7 linked regions of the Homo sapiens genome follow. The protein of the gene in region 2 interacts with the protein of the main gene of each other region in a pairwise test. Each region holds a gene or a part of one and is shown on either strand. Other genes may lie near its edges. The genes, in order: PROS1, LMO3, FRMD6, QRICH1, MALSU1, ZRANB1 and DRD1.

Region 1 (3,500 bases), on a different chromosome or scaffold from region 2:
TATATGTAGCTATTACAGGGGAGAAAAGTCTTAGGATGCAGGACTTAAAATAACATGTGTTGATTCAGTATCCTTAAAACACTTCAATGAGAATCAGCATTGAAGTTTCCAAGGGACTAGCAAATCCACATGATTGACGAAAGACAAACAGGGAAAAGGAACAATAGGTGTATAACTATTAGTCACCTAACTTAAAATAAAGGCAATTTAAGTTAAAGAGTCTGGACTTCAGATAATTGCTATATTAGGCAGGACAGAATCCCACACTCTTACCGCAATATAGTAAAATAGTAATAGTAATAGAGGCACCATTTGCAATGGGGCACGTATCTCCCTCAAATGGAACAAAGAAAAGGTGACAAAATGAATGTTTTCATCTTTAGAATTCCAAAGAAATATTTAAAAAGAGGTAAAATGTGGAGTAAAGTATGTTGGATGGATAACAATGTAGTAGGAATTTACTGAACTCAGATTATGAAAAAAAGAACAATTTTGCTTGGAATAAGGACTTCTATGCTCTTTCATAATTATCTGAGCATTTTGCTGATGTGAAGCAATATTATCTTGCCAAAATCCAAATCTGTGTATGCTCAGGATCTTCCAGCAGTTGATTCTATTATGGAGATAATTTCCTTTTCTTTGTAAAATCAGGCTGAAATCATAGTTTCAAAGGGTCATGTTCTGCATATTTTGTTTCTGGAATATATCAGCAGCATATTGATTCATTACAATGGGGAACAATTCATTCTTTTTCACAAGCATGGTAAACAGGAAAATAGAATGAATTTGTTGACATTTACGGAGGGAAAGTATTTGATCATGAGCAACAGACGTCAAGAAATTTGCAAAAATAAATAAAAGCACTAGCTATTCTTTGTGTTGATCACACAAGGGGCAGTTTATAAAAATTCATCAAGCTATACATTTAATCTAATGTGTACATATCGGTACATACTTTATATTTCAATGAAAAGTTTAAAATAAATAAATAATAAATTCTGGAAAAAATAATTTGTCCAATTCTGATCCCATGTTAGAGATCAAACTACTATGAATCGTCAGTGAGAAATGAACAAACTCCTGGAGATTGGCTCCAGGACCTCTGGATGGTATCAATATCCACAGATGCTCAAGTCCCTTATATAGAATGGCATAGTATTTGCATATAACCTATGCACATCCTCTCACGTACTTTAAGTCGTCTCTACATTATGTATAATACTCAATACAATGCAAATGTATGTAAATAGTTGTCATACTGTATTGTGTCTCATTTGTATTATTTTGTATTGTATTGTCATTGTGTTTTTTTCTGAATATTATCTACCCGAGGTTGGTTAAATCCACAGATGAGGAACTCAAGGATTTGGAGGATCAATTGTATTCCTAAAAGTGTTATTTACTAGAACTAATATTTTTCTCTCATTATTATTCTCATAGCAGGGAAGAGTTTTCTCCAATCTCTATCATTAGAAGATATTAGTTGCTCTGTGATGTTAAAGGAAAAAACCACATATTGGCAGAAATAAAGTGTGGAAGGAGCACTGTTACTTAAGTATTTATGTAAGTTATTGATCTTAGAATAATTTTCAATGTTTTTAATAACGTCTATGAATTTAGTTGAATTATTTAATGAATAATCATTCATGTATCTAACATCAAGTTCTAAACATACATGCTTATTTAATTAAAATATTTTAAAATTTGAACTGTATAATCTGTCTCAAGTATTTTGCCTTCTCATTATTCCAAAAAAAATCCAATTTCTTTCTTCTACTTCCAGCAATGTATGCTTCTGAGAAAATCTGATAACTGAAGTACAATTATGGCAGATCACCTGAGGTGATCACCTGAGGTCAGGAGTTTGAGACAACCCTGGGCAACGTGGTAAAACTCTGTCTCTACTAAAAATACAAAAATTAGCTGGGTGTGGCAGCTCACACCTGTAGTCCTAGCTACTCAGAAGGCTGAAGCAGGAGAATTGCTTGACCTGGGAGGCGAAGGTTGCAGTGAGCCGAGATTGCGCCACTGCACTCCAGCCTGGGGAACAAAGCAAGACTCTGTCTCAAAAATAAATAAATATAATAAAATAAAAATTGGATCATAAACATTGCTATAAAAATAAGTGGAATCATGACTAAAAAACATAAGCATTTACTTCATTTCTGAACTCAATCTAAGTACGATAATAATGGATAAAGTATTTAGACAGCCAACTAAAATTATGTAATATATGTCTTTAAAATGCCACTTAAGCAAGTTTAAATTTTTTCCTTAATAATTTTGAATATAATGATATTCTAAAAGCAATACTGAGTATTTTTTATTACCTGGTTTTCATAACATGTGTAAAGAATAATGGAAATTTCACAAGTACATTAAATCTACTTTCCCAGCTTCTTAGTAAATATGCATTTTCTACAAAAGGAATAATATGGAATAATGTAAAATGTTCATTGGGGAAAGTCAGCCTAGAATGACTCAAAAAGGTTTTAGGATGAAAATTACATGTGTGAAGGAGTAAATTAACTTTAGGTTTCCCCAAGTCATCTGATTGGTAATATGACTACATTATCTGATAGGTAATACAATTTCACACACTTCAAACCTTTTCGGCCACTTTTCTTCTGCCCTTATCTGCTTAACCTCTAGAAATTATCATTGGTATTGGTTCCTCACCTGCTGATTTCTGGCAAACGAAATTTTAAATATAAAACAACCCCTGCAAACTGCTCCGCCAAGTAAAGTAATTCATACTTTGTGTCAAGGTTCAAGGGAAGGCACACTGAAACAACCTGGAATAAAAGAAACCAAATAAACAACAAGAAAATCAAAATGCACAGGTTATTGCTTAATGTTTGTGTGAGGTCATGCATTTTTGTTTGGTTACTAATGTATCATCTGTAATACACTAAAATAATTAAGAATATTTTTGGTAATAATAAATACATATCTTCCATTTCCTTGTATAGTCTATCTATCAGTATAACCTCCAAGAATACATGTGTTTTAAAGCCTCGTTCAATGTGCATGGCTTTCGATCTTTGTCTTTAATACTTCCTTTGCAAATTTTCGTCCTAAACACAAACTCTTTCTTCAAGAACCAATATATATTTCTTTAATTAACAGTCAGGTATATTATCTCCCATGAATTATGTCTGAAAATTATTTTTATTTGAAGTCAGAAATAGGTGTAAGAATTAATGTACCAATAAACAGCACCTCATTCATTCACTCATTCATTTATTAAGCAAAAGTTTTCTGAGCAAGAATGTGCTATCTAGATAGTAAAGGGAATACTGGAAAACATGAAGGAAATAAATATAAATTCAGATCTCATAGTCTCCAAGGAATTTACAAGAACATTATTTAAAGTCATCACATATGGTATCAAGTATTTTTTTTCTACGAGTGAAAACAAACATTAAAATGAAAAGCTTTTAACATACAAATTATTGAACACATATGAGGATATTTTGAGGAGAATTACGTACATAGCA
Region 2 (3,146 bases):
GTGATGATTCAGAGAGTGGTTTGCCTAAAGTGATAGTTAAAAGGAAAACACTTTTGCATGGCATGTTTTACTACAGATATAATTTTCAGTGCCCTGTTTCAGTTAAGGTGCAACATCTCTTCTGTAAAAATGTAGAATTGAGTTTCCTGTTTTAATTCATTATACAGAATAGAAAATTTGAAATTTAATCTGACAACAGCAACAGAGTTGCTTTCAGAAAGATCACCTAAAATTTGTATAAATGTGCAAAATTACACCCAGCAATTGCTACCTTCATTTTTGAGAGTTTTATTTTCCCCATAAAAATAAATAGCGGTAAACGACCTAGCGCAGAGATCCTAAACATTACATTCAGAGAAACATTTGGGGTGCTTTGTCTATGCTTGTTATGACTTAGCTTTAGAAAGTAAATGTCCTTACACACCTTTTTTTTCTTTTCATGGACTTAACATATGCTTTCTAGAGATCATCTTAAATTTTGCCAATTAAGTGCAATCAAATAGTGTAACACCCCTTTTATTAAAAACATAAATCCAAATGTAAAAAAGTGAATGAAAGAATCCAGCAGATATTTATTAAGCAAGATGAAAGTGAAATTACAAACACAGGTCAACTTTTAAACTCAGCACTCTGTTGGAGTGGAGGTGCACGGTCCTTCATCATAGGCAGCCTATGCGAGATGCATCTTAGGAAGGGAGCTTTCGCTGCTCAGAAATCAAAGCTCCATCGGAGGTGTCCTACTGGAGGCATCAGACAACAAGCTAAATGACGTTAGGGCTACACAACACAAAGGGGAAAGTTGACAACAATTCAGGGGCTTTGAGTAGTCAAGACAATTAGCTTAGTACTTCAGGTCAATAAATGCTACAATTTATGGGCAATTAGCTGTAAAATGGCCTACAGCTGAAACACTATTCTTGTCTTATTTCACGATTTCATGGAGATTAAAGATAATCTAAACAGATTAAGGCCTTAATCTTTAATCCAGGTGAGTAATTTTGTTTGTAGTAAAAAGCATAAGAAATAATTCTCAGCATATTATGTAAAAGAAAAAGCAGTGAAAACCTTGTTTGGTCTTCCAGTGGCAAGGATAGTTGAACAACTTCAAGAAGCTGAGAGAAGTTTGTTCCCAATTTACAAGTATTTTGACATATAGATAAACAAAAGCAAAACCAGTTAAACCTTAAAAGATCATCTGAATAAGATCCTGACAATTATAATTTTACATCCATGTGAATTTCAAGCAATTGTTAATGGGGACCAGCAGGGCTGCATTAAGAAAACCACTTTTCACTGATCTCTCCCCCACATATTTTTAATTTGTCTTGCTTTGTTTATTTTGGTTATGCAAGTCCTTTCTCTTCATGAAACAAGTGTAAGGCTCTAAGGCTAAAATAATAGTTATTTTTGTGGGCCCCAAATAGCTACTTTTGAATTTCTTTCTTTAGTATATCTCAAATCTGGGGAACATGGAACTTGAAGACTCCTAACCATGAAGCATTTGGAAAAATACATATCATTCACTTTTCACAGAACCATTTTCTTAAAAATAAGAGGCAATATCCAGATTCACATGCATGTTCATAATAAAGCTTTGTTTTAAAACAAATCCACACCAGCATTATTTTCAGCTTAATATTTTGGCCCCAACCCAAGAATTCAGGTATAACATTTAATTTTCATCTGTAATGCATATATTGGAAGGACAAAATATATATGCAAATAACACTGGAAAATATTGTTTCCTATACAAGTGATCAAGAAAAAAACAAAGAAAAAGAAAACCCATAGCACTAAGTTTGCTGTAGTGAAAATATGGTTAACGGTGCCGTGCAAAATTAGATTTGTTGAAAAGTAGTTCTATTACAGGGAGCAAAAGCAAAGAAGCAAGTTTGTGGGCAACTCGGAAGAGGGGATCATATTCTCATTTCCTTAATTGTAATTTAAATAATCATTCTCCATAATTTCTCTTTCTAGAGCTTTCTTCTTTGTATGCTATCACGTAAGGTAGTACTATTTCACCTTAAAAAATGGAAAGACAAATTTCAGCCTAAGAATGATGTATTCTGAGTTGGCAATTACTTAAAACAATGAGAGAGTAAAACACATCAAACTTAAAGTGTTTACTTTTTGAACATTAAAATAAATGTCAGGTAAATACAGAAAAATATATAATCACTAGTTCTCAGCATTTTATCAATCCCTTTGTTTCTCTTCTTCTAGAAGATTCTATGAGCATTATGTTGCTCCGATCAAAAGTAACCTCACTACTCAAATACCATCATAGCTTCAATGTGCATTATAGTGATTTCAGTAGATTCACACTCAAATCTTTTCAGTGTCATACATTTATTAAGCCATAAAGTTATGAAACCCTCAGCTCTTGTGGAGAGATCTGGGCAGAATTTATACAAGAAGAAGTTTAATTTATCACTTAAAAATCATCTCATAATTGTGGTAACAGATTTTTAAAGTAACCCTTTGGAAAAAATTTTACGTGATACCCAAAGGCACTAGTTCACATAAGGGGTGTGGCTGAAAAAGCAAAACAAAGCCATTGTGTAAGTAAAGAGCACACAAAAAAAGGATATTAAAAGGAAACCTGTTAAGCTTTAAAGTTATTCTAAAAATGGCACTTTTCACGTTGGTATAAAATGAAAGTGCTTTAAGATGAAATTTTTATGTATTTTTTTAAAGCTGATTTTTAACCCCCTGAAAATAGGGGGTTATAACAAGAACACTGATAGACTCTAACTCATAGCGGCAATAAGTAGTGGATGTCACTAAAATGCTCTGTGTGTGTCTTTATTTTTTAGTATTTTTAATGTTGATAGACTTGCTTTATCTATCTGTGTATCATTAGTGAGATTTGCTTTTCAATTCTTTACTAGAAAGTTACAGCTCATTTAAAATAGCTGGTAAATACAGAAAGCATAAATATACAGTAAGTTTAAACACTGATTGTACTAAATGCAACAATACAAAGAAGCAAATGGAACACAAATGGTAACACAATAAAACTGTATTACATTTGTGCTTCAAATATTACAATACATTATATACAATAGTCCAAAATAAACATCTCATGCCAAGTGACACAAAAACGAATAGCAAGCAAAAAAATCCAGCCATATGTACATTACTTT
Region 3 (3,500 bases), on a different chromosome or scaffold from region 2:
TACCAGCTAAACCATAAACTGTAGAAAATAAACTACAATGAGCATAAGGGGAAAAAAAAACCTCCACAATTAAAAATTCACTTTAAAATTCAGCCACATCCTTTAAGTGCTCATCTGTAATAAGTATATATAGTGTATAAAGTTCAAAATAGAAATGAAATTACTAAGTAAATATTTTCATTATGAGATTTCCCAATAAACACAATGAGTATGCAGAGATCTTTTTAAGCTTAGTGCCAGCTTTCCCATGAACATGGGATGAAATATTTTTAAAACATGTGTCCTCACCTGGCATTATAAATATAAGACACAGCCTATTTCTACTATTTAGGCTGTTTCTTTCCAACTAGTATATTTTTACATCAAGAAAAACACATATAGCATAAGCTTTAAGAGGAGAAACTAATCCATCATTATATGAGTTTTGGTCAATTTCGCTTTCAAGGATGTACAGATTGCTTTCCAAAATAAGGCTATGCTCATAAAAATGCTGGTTTTCAAGTATACGGTATATATTGGTGGGAAAGGGGCACAAAACGGGTTTTTTTTCCAGAATGTTCCCTTGTCCTTTGTCTACCTTATTTCCCGTTTATGAGCAGCTCCTAAATGAAGCAGATTTAATGGCTGCCGCTGAATTTCTCCAAAGAATAAAAACTGTGAATCAGCCAATATCTTTTCCCCCACTTCATTATGTTACATTTTTACTAAAAATCTTTTTAGCAGATAAGAGTCATTTTCTATGCAATTCAGAAGCGCCATACTTTAAGTAAACTTGAAAATTAAGTTTTACACAGAAGATAAATTGGGGATATCTACTTCAACAAAAGATTCTTATTTCTTAATAGGATTCTTTAAAATAGCAAGCTTCCCCAGCAAATAAGGCAAAAAGCAATTAATGGTTATTGAGCACTCACTAATGTGCCAGGTATTCCACCTCATTATTTCAGATTCATTATCTCACCAAAGCCTCCCAACCTTGTGAAGCATATTGTATCATCCCCACTTAATAGACAGCTCAGGATTATAGTTGCCTAGGATCCCAGCTATAGCGAGTAGTGACATAGGGTTTCTAATTGACATCTGATTCCAAAGCCACACTCTTACTCTTTCCAACATATCATTCATACTTCTAATACATTTTAAAATATAAACTAATTATCAAAACTGTCATTTATTTGCATTTTCTTGTGTCAATTGAGGTGTCACAAATAAAATCTCTTCAGGCTAAAAAAAAATTACAACTCAGTCCTTTAGGAATTTAGCCAAACAGATCTTATGGAACTCAATTATGCCTTTCAAGGAAGATGGGGCATTAATAATGCATCTCTTGGGCATAGAAGAGAGATAGAAAAAACATCAGTTGGTCCCTTAAGTTTTCTGAACCAGCTAACAAGATTACTGAGCAATACATCCAAACTAAAGCCCAGTTTCCAATGGTCTAGCTATGCTAATCCTACCACAAAAGGCAAAGTAGAGATAACAAGCATAATACTATCAATGGTAATGGTAACAGCAGCCAACTTAACATCATGCTTAACATGTGCTGGGCACTGTTTTAAGCAGTTTTTCATCCAACAATTCCTTTAGTATTCAGCAATCCTAAAAAGCAGGTATGTTGCTGTCCCCTTTAACTATGGGGAAACTGAAGTACAGAGCGGTTAAGTAAGTAACTTGCCTGAGGTCACATAGTAAGAGGCCAAACTGAGATTCAATCCTAGGCAGTTAGGCTCAACTTACAGTGCTCTTAACCACTTCATCCATTTGGTTTGAGAATACACCTTTGAATACTTAAGTGGGTATTCAGGAGTTCTTGCCAACAAAGTGGCACTTATGGAATAGTGAAAGGGGTTAGGAGGAGGAGGGGAAGAGAAGACAAGATGATATAGAGTACTGTGAGTGATTCCCTGCAGAGCATGGCCCCAGTTGTTATTTGGGTGTGTGACCTCTGCCCCAGAAAGGAAAAACGAGGCTAGAGATACACGGGACACAAAGGAGAGTAACTTCCGAGAGTGAGGAACGTGTGGAATACAGTGCCTTAGGCTCACAGCCTATGTTATCAAGAAGGCCTTGACTAAATCCTGGCTTTGCCATTTAGTTTTGTGATCTTAGGTGATTCATTTAATCTCTTTAAGCCTCAGTTTCCTGGACTGTAAAATAAAGATTAAAGTACCTTTCATATAAAGTTATGAGGATTAAAAAAAACACATATAAAGTGTGCCCAGTAAACACAGGACTCCATAAACATTACCTGTTGTGGTAATGTTCTTGTAACTGACGGATACAACGCAGGTATAGCTTCACTTTGAGGAATATTAAAAATTACTTATCAAAGAAGTTGCAAATGCTATTCCCCAAAGCAGAAAAGCAGATTTGGGGAGGAGAGAAATAACAATGCCATAATCACTAAAAAAGTCAGATTAACATCTTATAGCCAATTGTCATCTCACTATTAGAACCATTAAAAAATACTCCACCCCGCTTCCAGGCCAGAGTAAAAGCACCATGGCCTCCAAGACTGACGTGCGATAACAAAAAGCAGTTCAATGAAACTCTTTTAAAAGCATGTAAAAAATGAAATAAGTTTTAATGGAAATGAAATCCTTCGGTTTTCCTTCTCAATCCTATTGAGAAGATGTTTTTTTCTCAGAAGCTGAAGACTTAGTTGCCGTTTCATACCTTATACAATCTGTAGTAATGAACAGCGACGTCATCCAGTCGGACAGCCTCTTTGATATATTTAAGATGAGCTTCGGAAGCTGTTAGTGCAAACTGATCTTTGTGCATGTTTGGAATGTGCTTCAGGATGTAGTCCTTCCCCCTCTTGGAAACAACCTGTTGGGATACAAGGGGTGTGCAATGCAACATTTGTTGGAGAGATGTAAGTTCTACCCCCACCCCCAAAATGATGAAAGAATGAGAAGCTAAAATAGGCCATGTAAACTGGTTGGTTTGCATTGAAAATTCATTCTGTTTTCACCATCTGTTATGTTACTAGGCTAAATCAGCTAATACTAGAAGCTATAGAGTCAATTTAGTTGTACTGCTGAATACCTAAGAAGAAAAATCACAACAAATAGGAAAAATAAGTTATCTTTGCTTTAAAGTCACCAAGAGAAAAACACTACACAAACTTTCATAATTTTGTACACATAATTGTTTATACTTGCAAGTTTATACTTGGTACCATGAAATACATCTATAGTAGGCACATCTTCAGGTTCTGGATCCTACCTAACTCTTAAGAAAATTTCAGCCACAGACTGGGAGGTTCTAAATGTTAATCAAAAGAAGGCAGGGTACTGGGAGAAATTCTCTAAAACATTTTTGGTTCTTGCATAAGAGGCTGATATGAACACTGCTGGAATACTTATGAGAAAACCGTTTCATTCAAACACTCATTGTGATTCACTGTGACTTAGATTTTCATCAGACAGTACTCTGGGCTTTCAGATGTCAAATATATAGTATCCAGCAGCTGCAGGCTAAGAGAAAGGTGTTGA
Region 4 (3,500 bases), on a different chromosome or scaffold from region 2:
AAAAAATAAAAATAAAAAAATAGGCCAGGTGCAGTGGCTCATGCCTGTAATCCTAGCACGCTGGAAGGCCGAGTCGGGCATATCACGAGGTCAGGAGTTCAAGACCAGCCTGGCCAACATGGTGAAACCCCATCTCTACTAAAAATACAAAAATTAGCCAGGCGGGGTACCATGCGCCTGTAGTCCCAGCTACTCGGGAGGCTGAGGCAGAAGAATTGCTTGAACTCAGGAGGCGGAGGTTCATCTCAAAAAAAAAAAAAAAAAAAAAGAACAATGTCTTCTATGCTTCTTTGAAATAACTCCATATGTTTATAAGACAGACATGACTCCTTAAAATGGAAATTGATTTTTTTTCCATGTGAATATATTCATTTTATTTCATTTATTTTTTTTTTTTTGAGACAGAGTCTCACTCTGTCACCCAGGCTGGAATGCAGTGGCACAATCTCGGCTCACTGCAAGCTCTGTCTCCCGGGTTCACGCCAGTCTCCTGCCTCAGCCTCCCAAGTAGCTGGGACCACAGGCGCCCGCCACCACATCCAGCTAATTTTTTTGTATTTTTTAGTAGAGAGAAAGTTTCACCGTGCTAGCCAGGATGCTCTCGATCTCCTGACCTCATGATCTGCCCGCCTCGGCCTCCCAAAGTGGTGGGATTACAGGCGTGAGCCACCGTGCCCGACCAGAATTGACGTATTTCTATTCTTTTGCCTGGGTTTTGTTTCTTTGTATTTTTATTTTTTTGAGACGAAGTCTCGTTTTCTCACCCAGGATGGAGTGCAATGGCATCATCTCGGCTCAATGCAACCTCCGTTTCCCAGGTTCAAGTGGTTCTCCTGCCTCAAGCCTCCCTAGTAGCTTGAACTACAGGCGCACGCCACCCAGCCCAGCTAATTTTTTTGTATTTTTAGTAGAATCGGGGTTTCACCATATTGGCCAGGCTGTTCTCGAACTCCTGACCTCAGGTGAGGAGTTCATTTCCACGGCCCCCCTCGACCTCCCAAAGTGCTGGGATTACATGCCTGAGCCACTGCACCAGGCTTTTGTCTGTTTTTTTTTTTTTTTTTTTTTTAATGAGACAAGGTCTTGCTCCACTACCCAGGATAAAATGCAGTGGTGCATTCATAGATCCCTGCAGCCTCACACTCCTGGGCTCAAACAATCCTCCTGCCTCTGCCTCCCGAGTAGCTGGGACTACAGGTCCATGCTACCACATCCAGCTATTTTTATTTTTCTGTAGAAATGGGGTCTTGCCATCTTGCCCAGGCTGGTCTCCAACTCCGGGGCTCAAGCAATCCTCCCACCTTGGCCTCCCAAACTGCTGGGATTACAGGCATGAGGCACTGTGTTCCACCCATATTTCGATTTTTAAGGATACTAGCCAACTGCAGGGTTTGTGATAGAAGTTATCCCATTAGGCCATTTATATGCCCCATGCCAGAGGAGTCCCTGGTTTAGGGGCATTTTCATCACGGTTCTATTTTCTTTTTTTCTTTTCTTTTTTTTTTTTTAAATGGAGTCTCGCTCTGTCCCCCAGCTTGGAGTGCAATGGTGCCCTCTCAGTTCACTGCAACCTCCGCCTACAGGTTCAAGCGATTCTCCTGCCTCATCTTCCCGAGTAGTTGGGATTACAGGCGCCCATCACCATGCCCTGCTAATTTTTGTATTTTTAGTAGAGACGGGATTTCACCATGTTGGCCAGGCTGGTCTGGAACTCCTGACCTTAGGTGATCCGCCCGCATTGGCCTCCTAAAGTAATGGGATTACAGGCATGAGCCACTGCACCCGGCCATGGTTCTATTTTCAATCAGGAAACTAAAATTTGTATTTTTCCCAAATATTGACGGATTGTAAACTGGCACAACCACTTGCATTATCTAGTGAAGCTGAAAATATCCATTCCACGAACCTGAGCAATTTTACCCATCAGTATATATGAAGGAACTTTTTTTTAAACAAGGGTACTTAATACAAGAATGTTCACAGCAGCATTGTTAAGAGCCAAAAGCTGGAAGCAACCCAGATATCTATCAATAGTGGAATAGATAAATACCTTATGGTGTATTCATACAACAGAATACTACATAAAAAATGGAAATGAACAGCTGCACACAATGTGAACAAATTTCAGAAACATTATGCTAAGACAACATAATACAGCATGACTCCATTTATACAAAACTCATAAGGAAACAAATCTAAACTAGGTTAAGGGCTACGGAGATGGTAAATGTAAAAAGAAGAAGAATGTTATCACAGAATAACAGCTGTCTGTACGGCTTGAGAAGCTGTGATCAGGAAGGGACCCACGAAGGGTTCAGAGATACTGGCATCGTTTTATTTCTTGAAAAAGTAGTACTTTCGCCAGCATTTACTTTATAATTTGTCATTAAATTGTACAGAGATCGCCTAAATTTACATGGATGGATAAATATTTCACAAATTTTAAAACAAAGAAAAACATGGGCGGGCGCAGTGGCTCACGCCTGTAATCTCAGCACTTTGGGAGGCCAAGGTAGGCAGACCACGAGGTCAGGAGTTCAAGACCAGCCTGACCAACATAGTGAAACTCCGTCTCTACTACAAATACAAAAAATTAGCCAGACATCAGCCGGGCACAGTGGCTCACGCCTGTAATCCCAGCACTGTGGGAGGCCGAGGCGGGCGGATCACGAGGTCAGGAGATCAAGACCATGCTGGCTAACACGGTGAAACCCCGTCTCTACTAAAACTACAAAAAATTAGCCGGGCATGGTGGCAGGCACCTGCAGTCCCAGCTACTCGGGAGGCTGAGGCAGGAGAATGGCGTGAACCCAGAAGGTGGAGCTTGCAGTGAGCCGAGATCGTGCCACTGCACTCCAGCCTGGGCAGCAGAGCGAGACTACGTCTCAAAAAAAAAAAAAAAAAAAATTAGCCCAGCGTGGTGGCGGGCACCTGTAATTCCAGCTACTCCAGAGGCTGAGGCAGGAGAATTGCTTGAACCCGGAAGGTGGAGGTTGCAGTGAGCCGAAATCGTGCTACTGCACTCCAGCCTGGGCGACAAGAGTGAAACTCCATCTCAAAAAAAAAAAAAAAAGAGAAAAGAGAAAAAGAGAAAAATATTAGCCTTCTGACACAGCCACCATTTCTACCTACAGTTTTGCCCTGGCCTGAAGAGTGAGACCAAAGGAGCACTCCTTCCCTCTTTCAGCAAAGGAAGAAATTAATCTACCATTTCTTCATGCAGCCACATCAATTTAATAACAGAAATCACAATCTAATGTAATAACTAGGAAAAAATACAAAGGAAGCATTTAAGTGAAGTCTGAAGAGGACTTAAAACATCTGGAACAAAATGCAGTACAACAGAATAACAGAAAAGAACAGGTAATAGGCCAGGCGCGGTGGCTCACGCCTGTAATCCCAGCACTTTGGGAGGCCAAGGTGGGAGGATCCCGAGGTCAGGAGATTGAGACCATCCTGGCTAACAGAGTAAAACCCCGTTTCTACTAAAAAATACAAAA
Region 5 (3,500 bases), on a different chromosome or scaffold from region 2:
CCTTTCTTAGTCTTAGTCTGTTGAGAATTGGTCATAGAGGAGGCAGTTAAGACCAAAAGAGTAGCCAAAATTGTATAGAGAAAGGTTGTAAAATAAAAAGGTGGGGCCTATACACAAAACCCTGGTACATGACAGAGCAGAAGAAGATGCCAAAAACAGGGTAATTGGAGAGATAGGGAGAGAACTAGGAAAGCATAAAGAAGAGATATACAAAGACAGCATACCAGGGTCTCTATCAGATGTAATAGTGGGATGGAGTCAGAAGACTTAGTGACCATTGGACTTGCGGATGTAAAAAGAATGGGAGGTTTTACAGAGAAGTTTCTGTGAAAGAATAAAGAAATAGAAATTGCCTTTACAAAGATTTTAGATGAGAGAAATGCAAAGGCAAGAAAGTTTTGTTGTTTGTGGTAAAATATATATAACGTAAAACCTACCGTTTAATCTTTTTTTTGGAGACAAGAGTCTCGCTCTGTCGCCCAGGCTGGAGTGCAGTGGCTCGATCTCAGCTCACTGCAGTCTCCGCCTCCCGAGTTCAAGTGATTCTCCGGCCTAAGCCTCCTGAGTAGGTGGGATTATAGGCACCCACCACCACGCTTGGCTGATTTTTCTATTTTTAGTAGAGATGGGGTTTCACCATGTTGGTCAGGCTGGTCTCAAACTCCTGACCACCTCGGCCTCCCAAAGTGCTGGGATTACAGGCATGAGCCACTGTGCCCAGCCCATTTAACAATTTTAAACTGTGTTGTTCAGTAGCTTTAAGTACCTTCACATTGACTTACAATCATTACCACCATCCGTCTCCAGAAATTTTTTCATTTTGCAAAAACGAAACTCTGAACTCATTAAACAATAACTCCCCATTTCTCCTTCCGTAGGCAGCTACCATTCTACTGCCTGTCTCTATGAATTTGACTACTTTTCAGTATCTCATAAAAGTAGAATCATAGATTTGTGACCGACTTATCTGACTTAGCATAATGTCTTCAAGGTTCATCCATGTAGTAGCATGTGCCAGAATTTCCTTCTTTCTTAAGGCTGAATAATACTCTATCTTACGTATATACCACATTTTGTTTATCCCCTTATTCATTGATGGACACTTAGATTGCTTCCACCTTTTGGCTATTGTGAATAATGCTGGTATAAATATGAGTATAGAAATACTGTTCATGAGGCTGGGCGCAGTGGCTCATGCCTGTAATCCCAGCATTTTGAGAGGCCAAGGTGGGCGGATTGCTTGAGCTCAGAAGTTTGAAACCAGCCTGGGCAACATGGTGAAACTCCATCTCTACAAAAAAGACAAAAAATAAAATAAAAAATTGGCTGGGCTTGGTGGTGTGTGCCTGTAGTCCCAGCTACTTGGAATGCTGAGGTGGAGGATTGCTTGAGCCCAGGAGCTTGAGGCTGCAGTGAGCCAAGATTGTACTACTGCACTCCACCCTGGGTGACAGAGCAAGACGCTGTCTCAAAAGAAAAAAAAAAAAAAAAAAGGCTGGGTTCACACTTGTAATCCCAGCACTTTGGGAGGCCAAGGCGGGTAGTTCACCTGAGGTTAGGAGTTCAAGACCAGCCTGGCCAAAATGGTGAAACCCTGTCTCTATTAAAAATACAATAATTAGCTGGGTGTGGTGGAGGGTTCCTGTAATCCCAGCTACTTGGGAGGCTGAGGCACGAGAATCGCTTGAACCTGGGAGGTGGAGGTTGCAGTGAGCCGAGATTGTGCCACTGCTCTCCAGCCTGGGCAACAAGAGCGAAACTCAGTCTCAAAAAAAAAAAAAATTGTTTATGTCCTTGCTTTTAATGCTTTGGGGTATGTGCAAAGAAATGGGATTGCTGGATCATATAGTGATTCTGTTTTTAATTTTTTTTCTGTTCACCAGCCTAGCACAAAGCTGAATGTTTTTAATTTTTTGAGGAGCTCCTGTATTCTTTCATAGTGGCTACACCACTTTACATTTCTCTAGCAGTGCAGAGTTTCCAGTCTTCACATCCTCATCAACAACTTATTTTCTCATTTTGGTAATAGCCATCCTAATGGGCATGACGTGATATCTCATTGTGGTTTTTATTTGTATTTCCCTAAGGATTAGTGATGTTGAGCATATTTTCTTTTGCTTATTGGCCATTTGTATATATTCTTTGAAGAAAAGTCCTTTGCTTTTTTGTTTGTTTTAAAGAGACAGTGTCTCACTTTGTTGCCCAGGCTTCAGTGCAGTGGTGTGGTCATAGCTCACTGCAGCCTGGAACTTCTGGGCTCGAGTGATCCTCTCACCTCAGCCTCCCAAGTTGCTAGGACTAGAGGAGTAGGAGTAGTCAAATTCATAGAGACAGAAAGTAGAATGGTAGGAGTTACTCCACAGTGCCCAGCTAATTTATTTTTTATAGAGACAGGGTCTCACTATATTGCCCAGACTCTTTGCCCATTTTAAAATCAGGTTGTTTGTTGTTTTGTTGTTGAGTTGTAGGAGCTCTCTATATATTCTGGATATTAATCCCTTATCAAATATGTGATTTGCAGATGTTTTCTGCCATTCTGTGGGTTGCCTTTTTACTCTTTAGAGTGTCCTTTGATGCACGAAAGTATTTAATTTTGGTGAAGTTCAGTTTATTTTTTCTTCTGTTGCCTGTGTCTTTGGTATTATATCTAATAAATAATTGCCAAACCAGTATCATGTTTTCCCTATTTTCTTCTAAGAGTTTTATAGTTTTAAGTCTCCTGTTTAGATATTTAACCCATTTTGAGTTAGTTTTTGTAGGCGGTTAGTTTTCCATGTGGACATTTCCTCAGCAACGTTTGTTGGAAGGACTGTCCTTTGTGCATTGAATGGTCTTGGCTCCATTGTTGAAAATCATTTGACCATAGGCACAAGGGTTTATTTCTGGGCTCTGTATTCTGTTTCATCAGTCTGTGCGTCTGTCTTTTTGCCAGTTTCAGACTGTTTTGTTTACCATAGCTTTGTTCTAAGTTTTGAAATCAAGAAATATGAGACTCCAACTTTGTTCTTTTACAAGATTGTTTTGGCTATTTGGGGTTCCTTGAGAGTCCATATAATTTTTTTTTTTTTTTTGAGATGGAGTTTCGCTTTTGTTGCCCAGGCTGTAGTACAGTGGCACAATCTCGGCTCACAGATTCAAGCAATTCTCCTGCCTCAGCCTCCCAAGTAGCTGAGGTTACAGGTGCCCGCCACCATGCCCAGCTAATTTTTTGTATTTTTAGTAGAGATGAGGTTTCACCATTTTGGCTAGGCTGGTCTTAAACTCCTAACCTCAGGTGATGCACCCGCCTTGGCCTCCCAAAGGGCTGGGATTACAGGTGTGAGCCACCGTGTCTGGCCCCACATAAAGTTTAGGTTGGATTTTTCTGTTTCTTCAAAAAATATTGTGATCTTGATATAGATTGCACTGAATCTGTAGACTGCATTGGGTAGTATTGGCATCTTTACAATATTGTCTTCCCATCCATGAATATGAAGTATCTTTCCATTTACTGGCATCTG
Region 6 (3,500 bases), on a different chromosome or scaffold from region 2:
CTATTTATATTGGTCATGCAAATCACCCAAAAAGCCCAAAGAGGGGGTAGAGGGAGATGAACCTATAAGGAAGTCAATGGGCAAGTTAAAAATGTAAATTTGGACATTATAACTTATTTCATCAATACTGTTTTTATTTTTTTGTTTTTATTTATTTATTTATTTTGAGACAGAGTTTCACTTTGTTGCCCGGGCTGGAGTGCGGTGGCATGATCTCAGCTCACTGCAACCTCCGCCTCCCAGGTCCAAGAGATTCTTCTGCCTCAGCCTCCCAAGTAGCTGGGATTACAGATGCCCGCCACCACACCCAGCTAATTTTTGTATTTTCAGTAGAGACGAGGTTTCACCATGTTGGCCAGGCTGGTCTTGAACTCCTGACCTCAAGTGATCCGACCGCCCCGCTCTCCCAAAGTGCTGGGATTACAGGCATGAGCCACCGCGACCAGCAGATGGTGTGTTTTTAAAAACACCAAATGTTTTGTGCCTTCAGGTAAGTCATCAATAAAATATCCTTGTGAAAGAAATAATTTTTAAAGCTAAGGAGTAATGAACTAGAGAATAGAAGCCTCTTCTATTTTTTTCTTCACAATCGTTTGTATGCCCTGAGTTTTCTCTCAAGTTAAAAAGTCACCCCAAAGATGTCTTAAATGGGCAAAATCACCAGTGTCCAATGCAAGGATTTCCTTTTCCGTTTTGACATGGTAATTTTCTTGGTAATATAAATCACTTTAAAATCATTCCAGTTCAAAGGAATATAATCTCTCAAAAACTAAATGACTTTTCCTTCACAGAAGTTAATTTAATTTTGTTTGGATTATTGTACAACCTCCCTTTCATTACACCAGGCACATATTTCAACAGTAGAAACTTTTTTTAAAAAAATCATTATAGAAGATTACATTTTGCAACGGTTTTGTTTCTCCAGAGAAAAAAGTAATACTAATTTAATAATTTACTTGAGAAAAACCTCTGACAAATTGTAAATGTCCATCTATATACGTAATTCTTAATATCAATACCAAAACAAATTGAAAAGAATATTTTAAAATGTAATACGCCTACACTTTGCTATTTTTTTTTTTAAACAAGGTGTGTAAGTAAAACCAAATGGACAAATACCTTCTGACATATTTAATACCATGCAAGTTTTAAGACATGGTCTTGCTCTGTCACCCAGGCTGCAATGCAGTGACACAATCATGGCCCGCTGCAGCCTGGGCGCAAGTGTTCCTCCCATCCCAGCCTCCTGCATAGGTGGGGACCACATGGGAACACCACCATGTCCTGCTAATTTTTTTTATTTTTTATAGAGACGAGGTCTCGCCAAGTTGCCCAGGTTGGTTTTAGAGTCCTAGGCTGAAACGATCCTCCCCTCTTCTCAACCTCCCACAGTGCTGGGATTACAGGACTGAGCCACCATATCCAGACCCATCCAGAAACTGTGGAAATATTTAGATATTTCTAGAGTTACACTTGGCACTCTAGAGTGGACAGACACCATATGACACGTTATACGGATTTCTGGCAAGAGGCCCAAATACAATTAGAATCCAAATGGATTTGCCTCAAACATTGATTCTCAACACAATTAAGTTATGAGAAAAGGGAAAATAATAGATTAAATATAACAATATTTTTGCAGACAACTAATATAAGAAAACGTTACCAATACATGTTCTATGTTTTAAAAATCATGTAAGACCAGGCACAGTGGCTCACACCTGTAATCCCAGCACTTTGGGAGACCGAGGCGGGCGGGCTGCTTGAACCCAGGAGTTTGAGACCAGCCTGGGCAACAAGGGGAAACCTCATCTCTACAAAAAATGCAAAATTAGCCAGGCGTGGTGGTGCACGTCTGTAGTCCCATCTACCTGGGTGGCTGAGGTAGGAGAATTGCTTGAGCCCAGGAGGCAGAGATTGAAGTGAGCCAAGATCACACACCACTGCACTCTAGCCTGGGAGACAGTGAGACCACCTTGCCTCAAAAAAGTTAATTAGTTAATTAATTAAAAAATAAAACAATAAAAATCATCTAAGTCTTTACAGACATGTCAAAATTCTGAAAGTGGGACAAATTTTGCTCAGAAACCATCAGAATTATAATCCTCATGATGCCACTTCATCCTGCTACTTGATAAAGAAGAGATTCTGGTTCAGTCCGTAAGTCATTGATTTTCAACAGGGAACACCACTGCATGTGCACTTCACGTCACCCCAAAACTTCAGAGCACCGGGAGGCATTACTGATTCACATATTCCCTATAGTGAAAGCTGTTCATACCACTGCTATTGGGCAACTGAGTATTTCAGCATAAAAATTCCAGTTTCAGGCCAGGTGGTGGCTCACAACTGCAGTCCCAGTACTTGAGTCCAGGAGTCTGAAACCAGCCTGGGCAACACAGAGAGACCCCATCTCTACAAATCATTTTTAAAATTGGCGGGGCATGGTGGTATACACCTGTACGCCCAGCTACTAGGGAAGCTGAGGTGGGAGGACTGCTTAAGCCCAGGAGGTCAAGGCTGCAGTGAGCTGTGATCGCACCACTGCACTCCAGCATGGGCAACAGAGCAAGATCCTGTCTCAAAAAAAAAAAAAAAATGTGTGTGTGTGTGTGTGTGTGTGTGTATACGTGAATATATATACATATATGTGTGTGTAAACATATATATATACATATGTGTGTAAACATATATATATACATATATATGTGTATACATAGTTTCAATGTGAACTTGTTACTTAAGTTTGATTTTTTTCCCCCTATACCTTCAACAGCCCCAACCAAATCTCAGCTCCTAAACTTAAGAAAGATGCAGCTATTGTTTAGGAAGTAAGATAAACGCCAACTAGGAAGCAGCAGGTCCAATGACAACTGAATAAAATATTTCAAGTAAAAATCTCATTTGATAGTTATAGCAAACACATAGAATGATTTTTTTGAAAAAACAAATATTGCCATGAGTGAAAGTAGGGAGGTAGAGAAATTAAACATAAACCTGACTTTAGACTTTTCATGTCCATAGACTGCCTGGTGATAAACTGAAGCCTCTATACCCTTTCCTGTAAGACCCTTTCATACCCACTACTTACCTCAGTCTTCCTGACAACCAGTGAGAAGTAAAACTGGCTCTCCTGGGTTGAGCCCCAACTATTGAAAAACATAGAGAGCTAGGAAGCAGGCAAAGAATCTAGAAATTCATAGGAGGAGTAGGATAAAGGTTTGCCCAGACCCTAGTTCCCAAAAATATTCATTCGTTCATTGATATAAAAATACCTGAGTGCCTAGTATGTATGTAGCAGGCACTGTTGTACATACTAAGATACAGCTTTGAACAAAACATAAAATTACTGGCCCTCAGGAAGCTTAAATTCTAGAGTAGAGAGAGACAAATAATAAACAAGATGATGAAGCATATTAGAAGTGTTATGAAGAAAATTAATGCTGTGGGGAGGGATAATGGACAGGGATGAAATTTTAGATACGGCAGTCATGGAGGAC
Region 7 (4,170 bases), on a different chromosome or scaffold from region 2:
TTGTATACAGCAAACTCAACCCATCTCATTTTCTTCCCAGAAAAATTTGATTTTAAGTGAAGCTGTTCACTGTTGATTCTTTGCCCTATTTGGTAAATCCTAAGATAAGAATAAATTTCTAAAAACAATTCTGAAGCCAAAGACATGTCCCTTATGGCTCCCCATGTTTGTAGTGTCCCTGTTTGATTGACTATGAACAACACAGAAAATACACTGGAATGTATTTGGAAACGGAGTTAATTGTGTGTTGGAAAGCAGCAGAGGGCTCTCCTGACACCTCAGAGTCTCACCGTACCTTAGTTTCTTAATAGCAAGCCCCAGAGCAATCTCCTCTAGCTTTTGGGATGAGCATGTGTGGCAGGATTCATCTGCGAGTTCAGGTTGGGTGCTGACCGTTTTGTGTGATGGGTTGGATCTTCTCCAGAGAGACGTCAGTGTCATAGTCCAATATGACTGATAGGGCTGGGGACAGCTTCTCCAAGGGTCTGGCGATGCCAGCTGCCTCCTCCTTTTTCAGGTCCTCAGAGGAGCCCACAGCATGTGGGATCAGGTAAACCAGATTGCACTCCTTGGAGATGGAGCCTCGTGGCTCATGATGGCTGGAAAACATCGCGGCCCCATTGTTATTGATACTCACCGTCTCTATGGCATTATTCGTCGCAGGGCAAAGTCTGTAGCATCCTAAGAGGGTTGAAAATGCCTTCCGAAAATCAGCATTAAAGGCATAAATGATGGGGTTCAAGGATGAATTAGCCCACCCAAACCACACAAACACGTCAAAGGTGTTGGAATCAATGCAGAAGGGCTGCGTCTCCCCAGACCCACAGAAGGGCAAAATGCAGTTCAAGATGAAGAAAGGTAGCCAACAGCACACAAACACACCCATGATCACCGACAGAGTCTTCAGGACTTTAGTTTCTCTTTTGAAGGACATCTTAAAAGAACTTTCCGGTTGAGAACATTCGACAGGCTTTCCATTACCTGTGGTGGTCTGGCAATTCTTGGCGTGGACTGCTGCCCTCTCCAAGGCCGCAATGCGCCGTATTTGTTTCTGAGCAATCCTGTAGATCCTGGTGTAGGTGACAATCATGATGGCCACAGGGATGTAAAAGCTTATTACAGAGGATGAGATGGCATATGTCCTGCTGAGGCTGGAGTCACAGTTGTCTATGGTCTCAGCCAGGGAAGTGGCATTTCCATCAGAGGGGCTTGTGGGTTTTGCCTTGTGCCAGCTGAGCTGCACTGGGATGAAGGAGATGAGTACAGACAAGGTCCATGCCACACTGATCAGGATGAAGGCTGCCTTGGGGGTCATCTTTCTCTCATACCGGAAAGGGCTGGAGATAGCCCAATACCTGTCCACGCTGATCACACAGAGGTTGAGGATGGATGCAGTGGAGCACATGATGTCAAAGGCCACCCAGATGTTACAGAAGGACCCAAAGGGCCAGAAGCCAGCAATCTCAGCCACTGCCTTCCAGGGCATGACCAGGACGGCCACCAAGAGATCTGACACAGCCAAGGAGATGACAAAGAAGTTGGTCACCTTGGACCGCAGGTGTCGGAACCTGATAACGGCAGCACAGACCAGCGTGTTCCCCAGGAGCGTGGACAGGATGAGCAGCGACAGGAAACAGGCAGTGAGGATACGAACAGAGAAGTCCCTCTCCACCACCAGCCCAGTCCCGTCCATGGCAGAGGTGTTCAGAGTCCTCATCTTCCTAAGAGAAAGCACATCAGGGGCTCTGACACCCCTCAAGTTCCCAAGCAGGGAATAGGGGTCAGTCAGATTTCCAGGAGTCCTCCCCACCAGGCAGCACTTTGCACAGCCAGATTGCTTCCCTGGCAGAGGGCCTCACCAACATTCCATGAGAGGACCGCTTGAGTGGCAATCCAAGTCAATCCCGTGGATGGTCACTCTTGATTTCTACATCTGTCTTCTGACTCCCTTGCTGCAGGTCACTGTCTTGGGCACCAGAAAGCCCCTGAATTCCCCAAATAAAGCACTGGCTTTTTAGCATATTCTAAATCATCAATCCAGTGACTCCTGGGCCTCTGCTCTGCTAGTCAGTTGCAATCACATTTCGGGGCTGTTGCTTTTCTGGTGGTGACAGGAGATTCTCCCCTTCTGAGACTCAGCTGAAAATACATGTCTTCTCGCTCCTCCAAGCCCCTGGCTCCTCAGCAGCTCTCCAAACGCCTTAAAAAGCAAAAGGAAAACACACGGTCTTTCTCCAAGACTTAAGCAGATGGCATCATTACTCACGTCAAGCCCAACCTAATAATTCCCAGGGCGAGCCCGTCCGAGCCACCTACCTTGCCTTGGGGTCGTCTCTCTCAAAGCCCCTGGAGCTTGGAATGTGGACTTCGCTGGGGGCAGCGGCTCCGAAACGTTGAGGAAGCGCGCCTGAGCCCAGCCAGCTGCGCGCAGCAGGGGTTCGGCTCCCGGTGCGCAAAAATCGCCGGGGTGCGTTTGGGGAAAGGATCCCAGGCCAGGTCCCAAGAGAGGCGGCGGCAGCCCACTTCCTTGAAGAGCTGGAGATTGTTCAAAGGGCACTAGACCCCGGCTAAGGGCTCCTGGGCGCTCGGAGCTTCCTTGGGAGAGAGCACTCCCAGGACTGGTCACCTGGGCAGCTTCTTTTCTTGGCTTCCTTTCGAGAGCCCAGAGCCTTGGCGAACCTCGGGCGGCCTTCAGCCCTACAGAGCAGGGCCCCGCGCCTCCCCGCAGGCACTGCCCGCGACCTCTCAGGAGCCTGTGGCAATGCGAGGCAGCGAGCCGAGCTGGCACCAGCAAGCGCACAGGCCGGCGGGGTTCCCGCGGGGCACAGCCCACCCCGCCCGCGCGTCCCCTCCCCTGCCCTGGGGGCGGTCCTCGCTTGACAGGCAGAGTTGCGGGCGACAGCCGCACGTGGTCCCCCTGGATGGTTCTGCGGGCGAGGTGGGCGGAGGACGCCCCGGTGAGTGCTTGCCCTCCCTGGTTACCTCGCCAGTCTCCGGATCCCCGCGCAGCACGCGCAGGGCCCGCGAGGCAAATCCAATGTCAGAACCTCAAGTAAGCTTGAGTCCCCTGAAAGCAAAGCTCAGCCCCGACATCCAGCGCCTCTTGGGGTCAACCCCTAGCCGGACCCAAAGCCCTAAGCGAGCGGGAGCACCCCCCATTCCCCGCACACCAACTCCTAGAACGGCCGGCGGACGTCCGACCTGCGTTGTCTCCAAGTGTCCCCTAACTAGGGTTGGAGATGCCCGTGGGCGCCTGTACTCACCGCTCGCAGGGAGGGCGCGGCGCAGCTGGGATCCGGGCCAGCGCGCGCCGCTGCGCCCCGAGGGGACTCACTCCTTCCCCGCCCAGGTGGCGGGCGCGTCCCGGCTGCGGTCAACGCCGGACTCCAGCCGGTGCCCCGCACCTCCCGAGCGCCCCAACCCCAGCGCCGCGCGCTCCGTGTGCCCGGGGCGCCCTCTGCCGGCGGCTGCGACTTCCCGAGCGCCCGCTGTGCCCTCGCGGGCACCAACCTCACTCACAAGGGTTCCAGCGACCGCCAGGGACCCGCGCCCCGACTCGCTCTTCCCGGTCCATGACTGCCAGAACCTGAAAACAGGGAAGCGGAATCTTCTCCACTCAGGACTCCTCCGCTTGAAACACCCTGAAAAACGGACAAGGGTGAAAAATTTTACTTTGCTGGCATTGCATTCGTGAATCTATGTTTCCTCCTGCGCGCCCACTGCGTTCAAACCTGGGGCGCTAGAGCAGGCGAGACGCAAGCCTTACTCTCAAAGAGAACGGCAGAGCGGGCATTGACTCAGCAGCATCCGTGTTCCCCGGTGCACGCCTTACGTTGTTCCCCCGTTAAAAGAATCTTTCCCCGCCAGGCCGGCTCAACCCGCTTCGCCCAGGTGGAAATGCGGCTCGGAAAGGTAGTGGGGCCTGCTCAAAGTCACACAGCTCACGCGGGAGCCGCGCCGCTGCCCACCTGTTCTTTTAACTCACCGCATGTGGTACAGGAGCCCACAAACTGGAAAATTACCTACAGGGCTAAAATACAGGGAAGAGTCATATGGAGGCAGCGGGGCCTGGTGGAGAAGGAGCCCCCAGCCTCCCCTGGTTGCCCCAGGCAAGCTCACAGGTGAGACTTTGCACTAATTGTGCATAAATTGCGACACTGTGGTGCCTTC

The links.
Region 1: the proteins of LMO3 (region 2) and PROS1 interact in binary tests that used the Homo sapiens proteins (3 or more experiments, as listed by UniProt).
Region 3: the proteins of LMO3 (region 2) and FRMD6 interact in binary tests that used the Homo sapiens proteins (3 or more experiments, as listed by UniProt).
Region 4: the proteins of LMO3 (region 2) and QRICH1 interact in binary tests that used the Homo sapiens proteins (3 or more experiments, as listed by UniProt).
Region 5: the proteins of LMO3 (region 2) and MALSU1 interact in binary tests that used the Homo sapiens proteins (3 or more experiments, as listed by UniProt).
Region 6: the proteins of LMO3 (region 2) and ZRANB1 interact in binary tests that used the Homo sapiens proteins (3 or more experiments, as listed by UniProt).
Region 7: the proteins of LMO3 (region 2) and DRD1 interact in binary tests that used the Homo sapiens proteins (3 or more experiments, as listed by UniProt).

What each region holds. Positions count from the first base shown.
Region 1 is NC_000003.12:93,893,897-93,897,396, forward strand, and holds part of PROS1 (vitamin K-dependent protein S isoform 2 preproprotein), read right to left. Parts: intron 2,796-3,500; coding exon 2,680-2,795; intron 1-2,679. UniProt on the Homo sapiens protein: Anticoagulant plasma protein; it is a cofactor to activated protein C in the degradation of coagulation factors Va and VIIIa. It helps to prevent coagulation and stimulating fibrinolysis.
Region 2 is NC_000012.12:16,547,872-16,551,017, forward strand, and holds the end of LMO3 (LIM domain only protein 3), read right to left. Parts: 3' UTR 501-3,146; downstream 1-500.
Region 3 is NC_000014.9:51,707,410-51,710,909, reverse strand, and holds part of FRMD6 (FERM domain-containing protein 6), read right to left. Parts: intron 2,833-3,500; coding exon 2,677-2,832; intron 1-2,676.
Region 4 is NC_000003.12:49,087,572-49,091,071, forward strand, and holds part of QRICH1 (transcriptional regulator QRICH1), read right to left. Parts: intron 1-3,500. UniProt on the Homo sapiens protein: Transcriptional regulator that acts as a mediator of the integrated stress response (ISR) through transcriptional control of protein homeostasis under conditions of ER stress.
Region 5 is NC_000007.14:23,302,339-23,305,838, forward strand, and holds part of MALSU1 (mitochondrial assembly of ribosomal large subunit protein 1), read left to right. Parts: intron 1-3,500. UniProt on the Homo sapiens protein: Required for normal mitochondrial ribosome function and mitochondrial translation. May play a role in ribosome biogenesis by preventing premature association of the 28S and 39S ribosomal subunits.
Region 6 is NC_000010.11:124,948,623-124,952,122, reverse strand, and holds part of ZRANB1 (ubiquitin thioesterase ZRANB1), read right to left. Parts: intron 1-3,500. UniProt on the Homo sapiens protein: Ubiquitin thioesterase, which specifically hydrolyzes 'Lys-29'-linked and 'Lys-33'-linked diubiquitin. Also cleaves 'Lys-63'-linked chains, but with 40-fold less efficiency compared to 'Lys-29'-linked ones.
Region 7 is NC_000005.10:175,441,383-175,445,552, forward strand, and holds the start of DRD1 (D(1A) dopamine receptor), read right to left. Parts: upstream 2,801-4,170; 5' UTR 2,317-2,800; intron 2,201-2,316; 5' UTR 1,718-2,200; coding exon 377-1,717; 3' UTR 1-376.